2 separate regions of the Homo sapiens genome follow, and region 1 is linked to region 2. The links come from fine-mapping of genetic effects on gene expression. Tissue or cell type: whole blood. Region 2 holds a variant in brackets; the other region holds the start of a gene. All regions are shown on one strand. Distances are between the middles of the regions.

Region 1 (8,083 bases), 44 kb before region 2:
CCTACTCCTCAAACAGGACATCAAGTAGCATCGTAGTCTATGTTGGGTATCCTTCATCTAACCAGACATGGCCATGAACTTCTGTAACGGTGTCCCCTTTGGTCACGTGAAAACTGTGAAGCATCAAACACTGCCAATTCAAAGGCCAGAAGCCCTTCCGGCTACTTGCTATATGCAAACCTAGAAAACACACAGGAGTAGAAGGCCAAAAGCCCTTCAGGCTACTTGCTATATGCAAACCTAGAAAACACACGCAAGTAGAGGAGGTACAGAACTCTTGACAGCCAGATCCAAAGAGATAACAGAGTAACCATCCCTGGACACTCACCTCTTCCGGAGAGCTGTTCCCAATTCACCAACCAAATCCCGATGAGGCCCCACGTCTTTGGAGTTCCAGTTCCAAGACACAGGACTCGGCCAGTTTGTGAAGCCTTCGTGATGCTTTGTCGTCAAAACTACATACCTGTGGACAGCAAAACCACATGAGCAAAGGAAGTGGGCAGTGAACTTGCATGAACTTGCCCAGCATGCCTGAGGCTTTTTAAATAGCTGAAAGAACTTGACCACAACAAATGTACTTGTACCAGTGACTATATTAGTGATATCCAGGAAGCTGCTGCAGTCACAATTCCCCTTGGGCATTGCTCCAAGAATGGAAGCAGATTTGAGGAAGTCCCAACCCTCAGTCCCCAGCAAAGGAGGAGGCCCAGAGGGAAGGAAGGAGTGGGTAAGGGAAAAGAAGTGCACCTTAGCTCTCTGATTCTTCAACACTTCTGGTAGGAACGATTAACTTTCTTTCATTCTTTGCCCTGAAGGAGAAAGAGCTCTACTGGAAATGGCAGATAATAGAAAACTAAGCCATTTGCTGGCCAGGCATGGTGGCTCACACCTGTAATCCCAGCACTTTGGGAGGCCAAGGTGGGCGGATTACCTGAGGTCAGGGGTTCAAGACCAACCTGGCCAATGAGGCGAAAACCCATCTCAACTAAAAATACAAAAATTAGCCGGGCATGGTGGTGTGTGCCTGTAGTCCCAGGTATTTGAGAGGCTGGGGCATAAGAATCACTTGAGCCTGGGAGACAGAGGTTGCAGTGAGCCGAGATCATGCAACTGTACTCCAGCCTGGGCTACAGAGCAAAACTGTTTCAAAACAACAATAACAACAAAATAGAAAACTTTCTAGAAAACTAAGCTGTTTGGTTTACCAAGCCTACATAAATTGCCTCTCATTTATTATAGAGGTGACAAAAGACCCAATAACTGGGAGAAAAGGCAAGTGTTGAAATAACAACCAAATCACTCAATATTTAATTTGCTTTTATGGCACAAAAATAGGTAATGCACTTTATGGTTCAATCATTGGCCAGAGTAGGGAACTCCAGGATTTGAAGGGCCAGATAGTATTTTAGGCTCTGTGGGAGCACATTCCTCTCTGTAGTGTATTCTTCTTTAAAACATTTTACAACCCTTTAAAAATGTAAAAACCATTCTCACCTCATGGGCCTTAAAAAACTGGCAGAGGACCAATCCCTCTGGCCAGTTTGCAGACCCTGGTGCAGTGGAAACAACCTTGACGTCATGAGACCTGGAGTCTAGGACATTATATTCCTTCCTCTCTTTGGGCCAGTCATCTCATCCATGAAATAAAAGGCATGGAAAGAGGTTATCTCCCAGATTTTAATTTTTCTCACTTGTAAGTTATGGATCCCTAAGGCCCCTAGGAGACAAACACTTCCTCTGCTTAATCAAGTCTTATACTCCCATACATTTAATGGCAAACACTAAATGCCAGTTGTAACTTCTCTTTAGTACAAGTGAATTCAAAGTTCAAGAGAAACGAAAACCCGGAAGATGGCTGAGGAACCAAGGTAAGGATGGAAGACTGCTCTAAGCCAGGGGCTGGGGAAACCTCCCCGCCTCCATTTTTACTCTTCTCCAACCCACTTCTCTCCCAGCAGCCGAATGAATCTTTCTAGAAGCTGATAGTAACCACTCCCTGACTTAACATCTGTCAATACAGGGCTCTCAAGGCTCACTCCTTCAGGACAAGCCCCTGCCTTGACAACTTCATGGGTCGTGGTCTCCCCTTATCCCCACCCCAGCGCTCTCTACTCTGTTCTCTGAACCAGCCACCCCCAAGTTCCAACAGTTCTCAGAGAGAGTCAGACCCTTCCTGGACACTTCCTACGTAAAAGGGATTGAGAGGAGCAAACGAATGACTATCTGTACTGTTGCCCAAATACACTGCACACCAGAACTCCCCTCTCTTTCCCTCTTAGAGACATTAGGGCTCAAAGGGTTGTATCCTTATATAACCCCTTTCTACAACCATAGAAGAGGCTGCAGGGAGGCTGAAGTGACATGTCCAGGTTCACAGTTGAATTAGAACCAGGCTCCACACCACTGATTTGAAACCCTGGAGTCCTGATAGTGCTGTCAATCTGAAAGGGACATCAGGTATGGCCTAACTCAGCCCTCTCGGTGCACAGGTGCAGATACCCAGGGCTTCCCAGCCTGCCATCTCCCTGAACCTTCATTTATCAGTCCCCAGTCAAACGCACCTCCTCCTCCTCATCAGGTGTGCCAGGCTCACTCCTGTGGCCGCAGGAGGCCACACGCGGGCCCCGGGGTCATGGGGGCGACCGGCAGCTGCGCGCCCCAGCTGGCCGCCCAGCCCCACCTCCTGTTTGCCGCCCGAGCCGGGAAGGGGCGCCGCTCCCCGGGACCACACTCACTTGGCGCCCGCGGCCTGGAAGAGGTCGGCCCACTCCTCCGGGTGGAAGAAGCGCGCAGTGAACTGCGGTCCGAAGTCGGCGTAGCTGAAGCCGGGCGGGTAGTTGTCGCGCATGAAGCGCTGGTACTGCGGCCGCCCCTCGCCCTGCCAGTGCCACCAGAACCACTCGCTGCCCCAGGCGGGCACCGAGAACACGCCCCAGTGGATGAACACCCCGAACTTGGCTTCGTCGAACCAGGCCGGCAGCGGCCGAGAATCCAGGCTCGGCCAGTCTGGGGTGTAGCGGCGCGGAGGCTGGGCCCGACGCACCGACTCGGCCGCTCCGAGGAAGAGCAGCAGCAGCAACAGCGCGGGACCCGCCGGCCGCGACCTCATCCCCGGAGCCCGCATCGCTACCCCTCAGCGACGCGGCCCACTCTTAACGCGCAGGTGCCCGCGGGCGGCTCCGCCCACTCTGACTAACGATTGGCCCGGAAGGAAAAAGGGGTGGGACAACCTGGACAGGTTGGCCCGAGTCGCTTCCTCCTCGGGTCGGAGGAGCGCCCTCTGGTGCTCAAGAAGGGAAAGACGCAGGGAGGCGTTGACAGCGCTTCGCTGAAGGACGAATAAAAACCTTGAAAAGGGACTTAACTGCGAGGTTAAATCGTGGAGGTGAGCAAGGCCCAGTGTGTGCGGAGAACTCACATTTAAGAAGGAGTCCATTGAGCCGGACGCAGTGGCTCACGCCTGTAATCCTAACACTTTCGGAAGTCGAGGCGGGAGGATCGCTCTGAGCCCACAAGTTGGAGACTAGCCTGTCTCTATAAAAAATAAACAAAATGAGCCTGGCGTAGTGGTGCACGTCTGGAGTCCCAGCTACTCGAGAGGCTGAGGTGGGAGGTTCGGGATCGCTTGAGCCCGGGAAGTCTGGGCTGCAGTGAACCGAACCGTGATCACGCCTCTGGGAGTAGTCCATTTTGCCGCAGCAATCCTGCAGGGGTAGGCTGAAGTGAGATCACGAGTTTTATTTAGTGATCACTTGGGAGCCATAGGGGGCTTTTGAGTTGTCCTGTAGCACAAGGCTGGAGGAGGAGATAACAGACCGGAAGGGTATCTAACAGCCCTGACAGAAATAAGGAGGTAGAGGGATGATGGGAAGAAACGTTATGAAAGGAGAGGAAAGAGAAAACTGGGTACTGAAAGAGGGAGAGCGGGCAGGACCGTTTCATCTGTCTGGTATTTACTGAGCTTTCTTTGGGAATTCCGAGGCATTTCAAATAGCTTAGTTTGTACCGAGATACCGCCACTGCACTCCAGCCCCTGGGCGACAGAGCCAGACCAAGGAAGAAAGAAAGGAAGGAAGGAAGGAAGGAAGGAGGAAGGAAGGAAGGAAGGAGGAAGTGGAGAGCCAAGAGGACCCAGGATTGCCTGGCAGGGAAGTTCCCCAGTTCCTCTGCAATTTGCACATGCTGCACATACTCAAACGGGAGGTGAGGCCATTAGCGAGGGAAATACGGAAGTCAGAAGTCTCTGAACAGACAAGGTGGCTCACGCCTGTAATCCCAGCACTTTGGGAGGCCGAGGTGGGCAGATCACCTGAGGTCGGGAGTTTGAGACCAGCCTGGCCAACATGGTGAAACCCCATCTCTACTAAAAATACAAAAATTAGCCGGGCATGGGGTGCGCCTGTAATCCCAGCTACTCAGGAGGCTGAGGCAGGAGAATTGCTTGAACTCGGGAGGTGGAGGTTACAGTGAGCCGAGATCGCACCACTGCACTCCAGCCTGGGCGACAGAGTGAGACTCGGTCTCAAAAAAAAAAAAAAAAAAAAAGAAAAAGAAAAGGAAGAAGAAGTCTCATGACTCCACGTAGCACACTCAGTTCCCACATGCCAGTGAGAGAATGGCAGCACATCAGAGTTGGGACTTTGAAGATCCTAGGCACCATCCTCTTCCCTACCCTTCCCATTGTACCGAGGAGGGAACTGAAGCCCAGAGAGGGCTGGGGGGCTGCCCAAGATCATGCAGCTAGTTTGAGTCAGAGGTGGGACTAGAATACGTGTCTCCAGGTGCAAAATCTATGCCTTTGTTCATGCTGCTTCTTTCTTGCACCTCATGAGAAGTCAGAGCCTATGTTGACAGAACCCAGCACTTCCTCACTCTGGCAGTGACAAGGAGAGAAAATGACTATTGCTGAATCACAGCTGTTTTCTTTTCTTTTCTTTTCTTTTTTCTTTTCTTTTCTTTTGAGATGCAGTCTTGCTCTGTCGCCCAGGCTGGAATGCAGTGCTGCAATCTCAGCTCACTGCAACCTCCACCTCCTGGGTTCAAGCCATTCTCCTGCCTCAGCCTCCCGAGTAGCTGGGTTTACAGGTACGCCACCACGCCTGGCTAATTTTTGTATTTTTAATACAGATGGGGTTTCGCCGTGTTGGCCAGGCTGGTCTCGAACTCCTGACCTCAAGTGATCCGCCAGCCTCAGCCTTCCAAAGTGCTGGGATTACAGGCATGAGCCACTGCACCCGGCCTACAGCTATTTTCTTTATCTTCTGTTTCTTTTTCTGCCAGATTATGTTGAAATATTGCCCAAAACAGTAAGCATGAACACCTTAGGAAAAAAACCGAACCCATCCACACACATTTTCTAGTAATCGGTTTGCATAGTGGTCTTTAATGTTACAGAGCTTGTCTTGGGGAAGATAAAATGGGACATTGTGATCTTCAATTTATTTCTCCTTATCCACATAACCAAAATGTGAACCTGCAGGGACAGGTGAGAGGCACTGATGTAGAGTGGACAGAACTGGAAGTTAGGAAACCTAGGTTTGTTGCACTGGACACCATCTCGTTTGTCTCCCTGAGCAAGTCTTGTCCACTGTCTGGGCCCATTTCCTCAACCAAACAACAAGGGCAGTTCTCAGTGATATCTAGGTCCCTTTTGCACCCTTGTTCTCCTCCCTCATAAGCTCTGCTTCTCCACTTAAAGCAGACATAGGGGCTGGGAGTGGTGGCTCACACCTGTAATCCTAGCACTTTGGGAGGCTAAGGTGGGTGGATCACTTGAAGTCAGGAGTTCAAGACCAGCCTGGCCAATATGGTGAAATTCCATCTCTACTAACAATACAAAAATTAGCTGGGCATGGTGGCGGGTACCTGTAATCCCAGCTACATGGGAGGCTAAGGCAGGAGAACTGCTTGAACCCAGGAGGCAGAGGTTGCAGTGAGCCAAGATTGCATGCCACTGCACTCCAACCTGGGTGACAGAGTGAGATTCTATGTCAAAAAAAAAAAAAAAAAAAAAAAAAGCAGAAATACAGTGTGGTTCTAAAAGAAGAGAAGTAGAAAGTGTGGAGTTGCGTTTGATCAAATGATTTTTAGAATCTAGTTTTATTCATTCAAGAAGTATTTACTCAGTGCTTGTTTGTGCCAGGCACTTGGGCATTTTCTTTGCCAAAATGAGAAAGGATTCCACCGATGAATAAAGAAAGGCATGCTTCAACTTTAAGGAATGACAGTATATAAACATGCAAATTCACTTTTAAACATTTATGCTACTTGTTTGCCTTACAAAAAGATTGGTGTCTGGATTAAAACAAGATTTGATTTTCCAAAACATACGTCAGAGCTTTTCAGAAACAGTTCAGTTCCACACATATTGACCAGATCCCTTCAGATGCTCTGCTGGGTCCTGACTGAGCACTGGGGATGCAGAGGTCAACCTGGAGCTCATCTTGTTGAGGGAGGATAAACTAGTGACTGCCACTCAACACAGCCCAGTGGGTGGACTTTGTTCCTGGGTCTGTACTGAGTTGAATAGTGTCCGCCTAAACTTCTTGTCCACCTGGAATCTGTGAATGTGACCTTATTTGGAAACAGGGTCTCTACAGATATAATTGGTTAAATTAAGATGAAGTCATACTATTAGGATTAGGGTGGGCCCAAATCCAGTGACTGATATTCTTTAAAAAAGACACCAGGCCGGGTATGGTGGCTCACGTCTGTAATCCCAGCAATTTAGGAGGCCAAGGTGGGCGGATCACTTGAGGTCAGGAGTTCAAGACCAGCCTGGGCAAGATGGTGAAACCCCATCTCTACTAAAAATACAAAAATTAGCTGAGTGTGGTGGCGGGTGCCTGTAGTCCCAGCTATTTGGGAGGCTGAGGCAGGAGAATCACTTGAACCTGAGAGGTGGAGGTTGCAGTGAGCCAAGATCATGTCACTGCACTCCTGCCTGGACAACAGAATGAGATTCCGTCTCAAAAAAAAAAAAAAAAAAAAAAAAGACACCAAGAGACACAGAGGAAATGCCATATGAAGACAGAGTCAGAGGTAGGAGTGATGTTTCCACAAGCCAAGGAATGACAGGGACTGCCAGAAGTTGAAAGAGTCAAGGAATAATTCTCCCCTTAAACTTTTGGAGGGAGCAGGGCCCTACCACATCTTGATTTTGACTTCTGGCCTCCAGAATTATGAGACAGTAAATTTCTGTTGATAAGCCACTGGATTTGTGAAATTTATTACAGGAGATTAATACGGGGCCATTTAATAAAATGGAGTATATTGAGAATCTACGATGAGTTAACTTTGCAGCAATCTGATGCTACAGATAGCTAATATTATCCCTAATGAGCAATAATCAAGCAGAATTTGACTGAACTAGGACAAAAGGTTAGTGGTTAAGAGGGCAGGCTTTGAAGTCAAACAGAACTAGGTTGGAGACCTCAGCTCTGGTACTTAGCAGGGTGACCTTAGACAAGTGACTTTGCATCTTTGAGGTTGCCACATCTGTAAAATGAAGATAACTAAGACCTTCTTATTAGGTTGTTGGGAAACATGAAGTGAAATAAGGCATTTAAAAACACTTAGCCCCCTGCCTGGCACATAGTAAAGGCTCAATAAAAGTGAGCCGGCACATGGTAGGTCTATCCTACCGTTTATTGAGTTAACTCAATTAATCCCTATTACATGACATGAACCTGCATATTTCCTTTGTTGTACTGCCTGTAATTATCTTCTTTATTGACTTATTGGCTGTCTTGCAAGCAGGATATAGACTGTAAGCCCCATGAGACAGGGGCACAGTCTCATTTATGGCTGGGTACTCAGGACCCTGCACAGAGCCTGGCTCATGTTTATGAGATGAATGAATAAGTGAATAGCTAGTGGATATTTTGTCTTGAAAGTATTAAACGAAGACATGTTTAACCAATATCTTTCATTTTATTCCATTTGAGGTCCCAAATAATTGCATTAGAATTCCTCTGCAATCTTCCTGCCGCCAACAATTTCTCTTGTTGGCTGTTTTAGGCTCCTCTGGGAGGAACCCAGCCTCCCTCATATGAAAAATGAGTACCCTGGGATCTATTTTATT
Region 2 (8,102 bases):
CTTTGCTGCATGGCGTGAGGACTGAGTACATCCTTTCTCTCCCCAGGAGATGGAGGGAAAAGAGAACAGTTTTACACTGTTCTGGGTTCTGCTGGAAGAAGGCTGAGACCTGATCTTACTCTTCTGGTGGTCCCTGCAGCATAGCTGGGGACCGAGAGCCTTGGCTGTGCGTGGGTTCCCACTCTGCCCTCTCCCGAGACTTCAGTGTCCTCATTTATAGCTTGGGGAGAGAAAGAGAATTGCCTTTACAGGACCGAGGTGAGGATTACATAAGATAATGCCTAAGCACAGTCAGGGAAGGTCTGTCAGAGATCATCATGGAAACAGGAAGTCACCTGGGCCAAGGGCTAGAGCCTCAGGGTCTTGGCACAGAGTAGACACCTCACAAGACTGGATTGGACTGCTCAGTTTGGGGTGGGAGGAGAGAAGCCGGCCATATTCATATGATATCCCTCCAATTTCCTCCCCAGCGCAGGTTCTCGGGTTGTCCATGTGATGGCATCTGAAACGCAGCCTGGCGAGCGACACAGTAAAGACAACCCTGATCATGAGTCCCCGAGCCTGCCCTGCATCTCCATACCTAGAGGCATTTCCACTCCCGTTCTCCTATTTTGATTCCCACCACAATATGGCTTGGTTCTGGATCCAGATTGACCTGGACTTGAGTCTCAGCTTTGCCATTACCACCAGTTATGGGACTGTGGACAAGTCTCTCTCCTTCTTTTTTTTTTTTTTGAAACAGTATCTTGCTCAGTTACCCAGGCAATAATAGCTCACTGCAGCCTCAATCTCCCAGGCTTAAACAATCCTTCCACCTCAGCCCCCTGAGTAGCTGGGACCACAGGCATGTGCCACCATGCCTGGCTAATTTTTAATTTTTTTTTTTTTTTTTTTGTAGAGATAGGGTCTCACTATGTTTCCTAGACTGGTCTTGAAGTGCTGAGCTCAAGCTATCCTCCTGCCTGGGCCTCCCAAAGTGCCAAGCTTACAGGTATGAGCCACCATGCCCGGCCCCTTGGATAAGTCTTAAGCTTGTGTGAGCTTCAGTTTCTCACCTTGCAAATGTGGTTAGTGATAGCAGCCCCCTCCTAGGCTGTGGTGAGGACTTAATGAGGAACGGTCACAGAGCTCAAATGTGTAGTAAATGCTTCATCAATCTTCGCTTAAGAAAAAAACAAGAGCGGATCACCTGAGATCGGGAGCTCGAGACCAGCCTGGCCAACATGCAGAAACCCCATCCCTACTAAAAATACAAAATTAGCCGGGCGTGGTGGTGCATGCCTGTCATCCCAGCTACTTGGGAGGCTGAGGCAGGAGAATCGCTTGAACCCAGGAGGCAGAGGTTGCAATGAGCTGAGATTACGCCATTATACTCCAGCCTGGGCAACAAGAGCAAAACGCTGTCTCAAAAAAAAAAAAAAAAAAAAAAAAAGAAAGAAAAGAAAAGAAAACAAAACAAAAAAACAAAAAACAAAAAACAAGAGCCCCTTTGAGGCAGGTTGGGAATGCTATGATAGCGTCATTTTTAGAGTTGAAGAAACTGAGGTTCAGAAAGGTGATGTAACTTGCCCCAGGTTGCCTGAGTAATTGATGAGGGAGACTTGGGTTTCCATGTGATTCCATGTGATTGATAGCACAAGCTCTGAACCCACAGCGCAGGACTCTCTGCTCACACTGGCTCCGCTATTCCTTGGCTGTGTGACACTGAGCAAGTCAACACTGCTGCTGAGTCTTGGTTTTTCTCATCTGTAAGATAGGGCTGCCTGTCTCTTTTCAGAGTGCCCTTTGTGTCTCGTGGCTCGGGGACTTTTTTCAGGGGTGAGAGTAGGAAGCAGAAGCTATTTGAAGACAACCCTTCTTCCTGTCCTTTCCTGAGAACCTGAGCGCAGTGAGAAGGTTAGGTCACGTGGGTGGGGGGTGGGGAGAGAAGAGTGTCCATCTGCCATCCACAGCCAAGGGGAGAGGAGAGATTGTCCTTGGCTGGGAGGGGACCGAGGTCTTGGGCACCTAGAATTTGCTTTCTGGGAAGATGGCAGGACCTCTGGGGGAAGTCACTGGGTGATATATCCTGGATGTCAAAATGAGACACAGTGGTTTCAGGTCTTACAAAGAATCTGGACTCCAGGCATGCCAGGGAAGTGGGCAAGGCTGGACTTCAGACAATCAAGTCCATTTGGGCAATGGGCATCCATCGTAGGAGGACCCAGGAGCCTCCCTCACGCTTATGTTCTGTGTGTCCTCTGGGTCAATGTGCATGGGTGGGGATGGGAGTGAGGGAAGCTCAGTGCACTTGGAGATTAAATTTCCTCCTAGCCCAGTAGGATGAGGCTCAGGGTCCTATTGAATGTGACTTCAACTGAATAAAGAAAAGATCAATTTATGCACACCCGAGGGTGTGCAGTAAGAGTGACTGGTACTGTAAAATGAGGTGGGAAGAGAGGGGGCTGGCGCTGGAGGGCTCTGCTTGGCTGAGCCAGGCTGCCATTTTCCCGTCTTCACTGCCTTATCCTGGCCTTAGCCGGCCAAAGGGTAAAGGATATGCTTCACCTGCCCAGCGCAGGTTAGGGGGTCACTCTGGTAAGCCACAAGGTGGTTACAGAGCTGGGGCCAGGATTATTGGGACTCCACCTCCTGAGCTCTCCCTGAACTTCTCCCCAGCCTCCATCCTGGTTTTCATGCTGCCAACGTGTCTACTTGCCACTCATTCCAGGGAAAAGCAGCCAGGCCTCATTTTATCCTCATCTCAGATCCACAGCAAGAGCAGATGGGGTGAAGATCAAACTCTCCACCACAGCCATTCCCGAGCCCTGTGCTGCTGCCCGCCCTGTGCCCGCATCAGACAGTTGACTCGCAACAAGCCTGTGAGTGACCTTCTCAGGCCCATGTTTCTCAGAAGAGGAAGCTGAGCAGGAAAGAAATGGAGTGATTTGCATTAGGCCATCGAGCTACCAGTGGCAGAGCTGGGATTCAGACCTGGACGCTGACCCCAGGGCACACTGGAAAATACTGCTCTTCCCTCCGCTGAGTGGAACTTACACCAAAGCAGACCCCTGGCCTCCTGAGTCCAGTGTGCCCCTAACACTACCTTGTGGTCTCCCCATCTATAAAATGAGAGCGCAGGACTCACCTGGTCATCTCAAAGGCCTCTGCCAGCCCCTGTCATTTCCTGGCCCCCATCTACTGTTGCAGTCCACACCTCGTAAGGCAGGATAGCCTGGTGGCTGAAGGGTGGGCCGCGAAGCCGGAGTGCCTAGGCTCAAGCCAATGCTCTCATTCAATGCCCGCATGATTTCAGGTGGGTCACCTAGCCCCCACCTATCAAGTGGACAACAGTGATAGCTCCTACTGCATACGGCTGTTGTGAGGATTAAATAAATCCAACCACTAAAGGCTCTTAGGGCAGCGCCTGGCACACAGTAAGGCCATCTCTGTGTGTGTGATTCTTGTCTCTGTAATGAAATGAAAGCCAAAGTCCTGATTCTTGGTCCTAGGAGGGGGATGCCAGCCCTGAACTTTCCTGCGACTGGTCCTCCACAACCCCAGGTGTCCTGAAATGACATCTATCCCCTGCCCCAGACAGGCCCACCTGGCTTCTTGTGTCCCTGGAGGGAAGGGATAAGGTAAGAATACAGGTTTTGGCCAGGTGCAGTGGCTCATGCCTGTAATCCCAGCACTTTGGGAGGCCAAGGTGGGCAGATCACCTGAAGTCGGGAGTTCGAGACCAGCCTGGCCAACATGGTGAAACCCTGTCTCTACTAAAAATACAAAAATTAGCCAGACGCAGTAGTGCACACCTGTAATCCCAACTACACGGGAGGCTGAGGCAGGAGAATCGCTTGAACCTGTGAGGCTGCACTGAGCCGAGATTGTGCCACTGTACTTTAGCCTGGTCAACAGAGCAAAACTCCGTCTCAAAAACAAACAAACAAACAAAAAAGAATACAGGTGTTGGGGAATGAGGAAGAAGCCTAAAATAAACAACAAAAAAAGCTACTCACGGTTGTGTTGTGGGTGGCTGGGCACTGGGAGCTGCCGGGGGCTGAGGAGTCCCAGTTGTTTTCTGTCCTCTCCCAGGACCTGGCCGTGGGTGCCACTCAGAGCACCTGTTGAGTGCCACCCCAAGCCAGCTTTCTCTTGCTTTTGTACTTTCTCACAGATGAGTGAGTGTGAGGAGGTCTGGCCTTCCGTGCCTGTTACCACTTCCCCTCCAGGTCCCTGGTGCCACAATGCTCTTGCCCCTGC[GGTTGA/G]GTTATCTCTTACAACGAACTCTGGCCAGGGTGGGGCATGGGCCTAGACCCTGGAGTCAAGGGACTTGGGTTCTAATACAGCCTCGTTAAAATGTTGATTCACTTAACTTCCCCAAAGGCAAGTTTCTTTATCTGTAAAATGGGGATAATGCACCAACATTACAGTAGATCACCTAAAAGGACATGCCATTCCAATGCCTCTTCACCACTAGGCCAGAGCTTTGAAATGCAAATGCCTACAGGCAGATTAACATAATGGGTGATGGATCCTGGTGTGGGGCAATAGGGAGTGGTAGGGACTGTGGGTAATAGGGGGAACACAGGACCCAAGTGGAAAAGCTTGGCTGGAGCTGAGAGGTACCTGACCCTCTCTACTGGCCCAGCTGAGAGGTATCTGCCCCACACCCCAGACCCTGATCTGGGCCAGTAGAGAGGGGCAGGTACCTCTTAGTTCCAGCCAAGCTTTTCTGCTTGGGAGTATAGGCAAATTGTCAGATATTCCAAGCATTTGGAAGTTGTGCTGTATTTTTCAAGAGATACCAGAAATCTTGACTTATGTGATAGCTTCCTGTGTGTGTGTGTGTGTGTGTGTTTTGTTTTTTGTTTGTTTGTTTTTGTTTTGAGACCAAGTCTCGCTCTATTGCCCAGGCTGGAGTGCAATGGCGCAATCTCGGTTCACTGCAACCTCTGCCTCCTGGGTTCAAGCAACTCTCCTGCCTCAGCCTCCTGAGTAGCTGGGACTACAGGTGCACACAACCACCTCCAGCTAATTTGTAGTTTTAGTAGAGACAGGGTTTTGCCATGTTGACCATGCTGGTCTTGAACTCCTGACCTCAAGTGATCCACCCACCTTGGCCTCCTAAAGTGCTAGGATTACAGGGTGAGTCACCACGCCCAGCCACTTCCTGTTTATTTTATTTTACTTTATTTTATTTTATTTTAATTTTTTGAGGCAGGGTCTCGCTCTGTTGCCCAGGCTGGAGTACAGCGGCACGATCATAGTTCACTGCAGCCTCAAATTCCTGGGTTCCAGTGATCCTCCCATCTCAGCCTTCCAGGTAGCCGGCAGAACAGGCATGTGCCACCACACCTGGCTATTTTTTTTTTTTAATTTTTTTGTATAGATGGGGGTCTCACTATGTTGCCTAGCTTGGTTTTGAACTCCTGGGCTCAAGCAAATCCTCCCGCCTCAGTCTCCAAAAGTGTTGGGATTACAGGCATGAGCCACCATGCTCAGCCAGTTGCCAATTTTAGAATGTAAAGCCCAAAGTCACACCTTTAAAAAATGCTATGTGAGTCAAACTAAACATTATCTTCAGTTTATATTTATTAGGGAGTATGTCCCTAATGTCCAGTCCTGGGCTGGATGTACTCAGGTATGGTATCTGATATAGTTCCAAGTGTCCTCACACCCACTCTCAGATAAAATATTTAATGAGACGCCATTATATTCTAAGGATACAGAGATGATTATGGCAAAGTTTTTGCCCTTGTAAACTCATGGCCTATGATTATCTCATCAGATCCTCTCACTAACTGCTCCCCACACCCCAGACCCTGATCTGGGCCAATGAAGAAAGATTTTGCCCCTGAGGTAGAGTTGCAAGATTCTTCAAGTAAAAAATGTTACAGGCATGAGCCACCCCACCTGGCCCAATGAATTATATTCTTGAAGATGATGGAGAGTAGATTTTAAGTGTTCTCACCACAAAAATAAGTATGTGAGGTAATGCAACAATAGTTGAGACATTCAGGCACTAAAAATTACTTGTTGCTTATGTGCGATTAGAATGCTCAGCCTAGCGTGGTGGCTCACGCCTGTTATCCCAGCACTTTGGGAGGCAGAGGCAGATGGACTGCCTGAGATCAAGAGTTCAAGACCACCCTGGGCAACATGGTGAAACCTCATCTCTACTAAAATACAAAAAATTAGCTGGGTGTGGTGGTGCGTAGTTGTAGTCCCAGCTACTCAGGAGGCTGAGGCATGAGAAATGCTTGAGCCACAGAGGCGGAGGTTGCAGGGAGCCGAGATCGCCTTACTGCACTCCAGCTTGGGCTCCAGAGTGAGACTCTGTCTCAAAAAAAAAAAAAAAAGAAAAAAGAAAAAGAAAAAAAAGAATGTAACCAGGCATTCTCTGTCTTATCTGGCAACACCACCCAGAGGGGACACTTGGCAATATCTGGAGACATTTTTGGTTGTCACAACCTGGTGGAGGAATTCTACTGACATCTGCTAGGGAGAGGCCAGGAATGCTGCTAACCATTCTGCAATGCACAGGACAGCCCTACAGCAAGGAATTATCCAGCTCAAGATGCTAACTTGCGAACCCTGGTCTGGACCTAGTCCTGGCTCCTTCAGCGCAAAGCCATTGCTGGGAAGGGCCTTTAATTTGATCATTCATCCCTTTGGGAAATGGAACAGTAACAGCCTCCAGCCCTTGCATCTCTCCCAAGAGCAAGACATTGGCAGTGAGGAATGGGACAGAGAGCCCCAGGTGCCAAGAAAGAGGAAAAGAAGACCAGAAGGAGCTGGGGAGTGGGGCCCGCCTGCAGCCTACATCAGACTCCTATCTGGGCTGGAATTGGAGACCCAGGGGTGAGCTGGAAGAGATCTAGCAGATGCTTCCACAATCCTGAATCCTAGACCTCTGGCCTTGAGAAAGCCCCACATGGGGAAGAAGGGTGAGGCTGTCCCCAAACGCCTGGTCCTCCATTGCAGCCCAAAGCATGTAATTGGAGGTGGAAGGCATGAATGAGTGAAGGAATGAATGAACGAAGGAAGAAAGAAAGGAAGTTACTGAAAGTTCAAGTGGAAGGAACGCTGGGAAGCGGAGTTTTTGTGTGGTCTCTGCCATTGCCTGGCTGACCAACAAGTTGCTTCCTGTATCTGTTCTCAATTTCTCCATTCCTAAAATGAGGAAGTTGGAGATAACAGGTGCCCCTGAAACGCCTGAGTGCATGGAAGTCACCCACAGGGCCTGTTAAAACACAGATTGGGGCCGGGTGAGGAGGCTCATGCCCGTAATCCCAGCATTCTGGGAGGCTGAGGCGGGAGGAGGTCTTGCCTGAACTCAGGAGTTTGAGGTTATAGTGAGCTCTGATTATGCTACTGCACTCCAGGCTGGGTGACAGAGAGAGAACCTTGACTTGAAAAACAAAACCCCAAAACACAGATTGCTGGGCCCCACTCCCAGAGATTCTGATTCAGTATTCTGGGATGGGGCCCAAGAATCTGCATTTCTAACTAATTCCCAGGGGAAGCAGATGCTGTCGGTCCTTGGACTCCCTATGGGCAGCACTGGACAAGAGAATCAATAAGGAAGCTCCATGATCTCTCAGTCCCCTGGGCAGGGCTGATGGGGCCCACAGGGGAAGTCTGTTCTCTTTTTGCCCTGGGAGGGCCAGGAGCAATTGTAGGTGAGGGTTTAGGAGGCGGTTTTCTCAGCTCCTTGGGTAGAGCTGGCCTCAGCAGCCCTTGTACTGTGAGATGCCGCCATCTACAGGATGGATCTACCCCATGCTGGGGCCGAGTGCTGTCATATTGAGGGTCTGATCTGAGGAGGAACATTCCCGAGAGGTATACTTTTCCTGTCAGGCCACAGGGAAGCAGTCTTTGCACTGTCTGAACCAACTGACCCTAAGATGGTTCAAAGCCAGGCATGGTGGCTCATGTCCGTAATCCCAGGCCTGTGGGAGACCGAGGAGGAAGGAAGGATTGCTTGAGCCCAGGAGTTCGAGACCAGCCCAGGCAACATAGCGAGACCCTGTCTCTACAAAAAATAAAAAATTAGCTGGGCATGGTGATGTATGCCTGTACTCACAGCTACTCAGGAGGCTGAGGCAGGAGGGTCATGT

The links. PIP is the estimated chance that this variant, and not a neighbour inherited with it, causes the effect.
Region 1: it holds the start of FUCA1, and the variant in region 2 is fine-mapped to the expression of FUCA1 in whole blood (TOPMed, PIP above 0.99).

The regions. Positions count from the first base shown.
Region 1 is chr1:23,865,163-23,873,245 of GRCh38, forward strand. FUCA1 (alpha-L-fucosidase 1) reads right to left here and starts at 3,128. Exons shown (of 8, transcript NM_000147.5): 1 at 2,736-3,128; 2 at 329-463. The coding sequence starts at 3,124. It overlaps CNR2 (cannabinoid receptor 2), which reads right to left. Exons shown (of 2, transcript NM_001841.3): 2 at 5,353-8,083. RefSeq lists an enhancer at 90-1,289 and a silencer at 2,540-2,759.
Region 2 is chr1:23,909,248-23,917,349 of GRCh38, forward strand. It overlaps CNR2 (cannabinoid receptor 2), which reads right to left and starts at 4,115. Exons shown (of 2, transcript NM_001841.3): 1 at 3,999-4,115. RefSeq lists a silencer at 964-1,013 and enhancers at 2,984-3,153, 3,927-4,441, 7,794-7,843. The variant GGTTGA/G (reference allele first, on the strand shown) is at 4,243.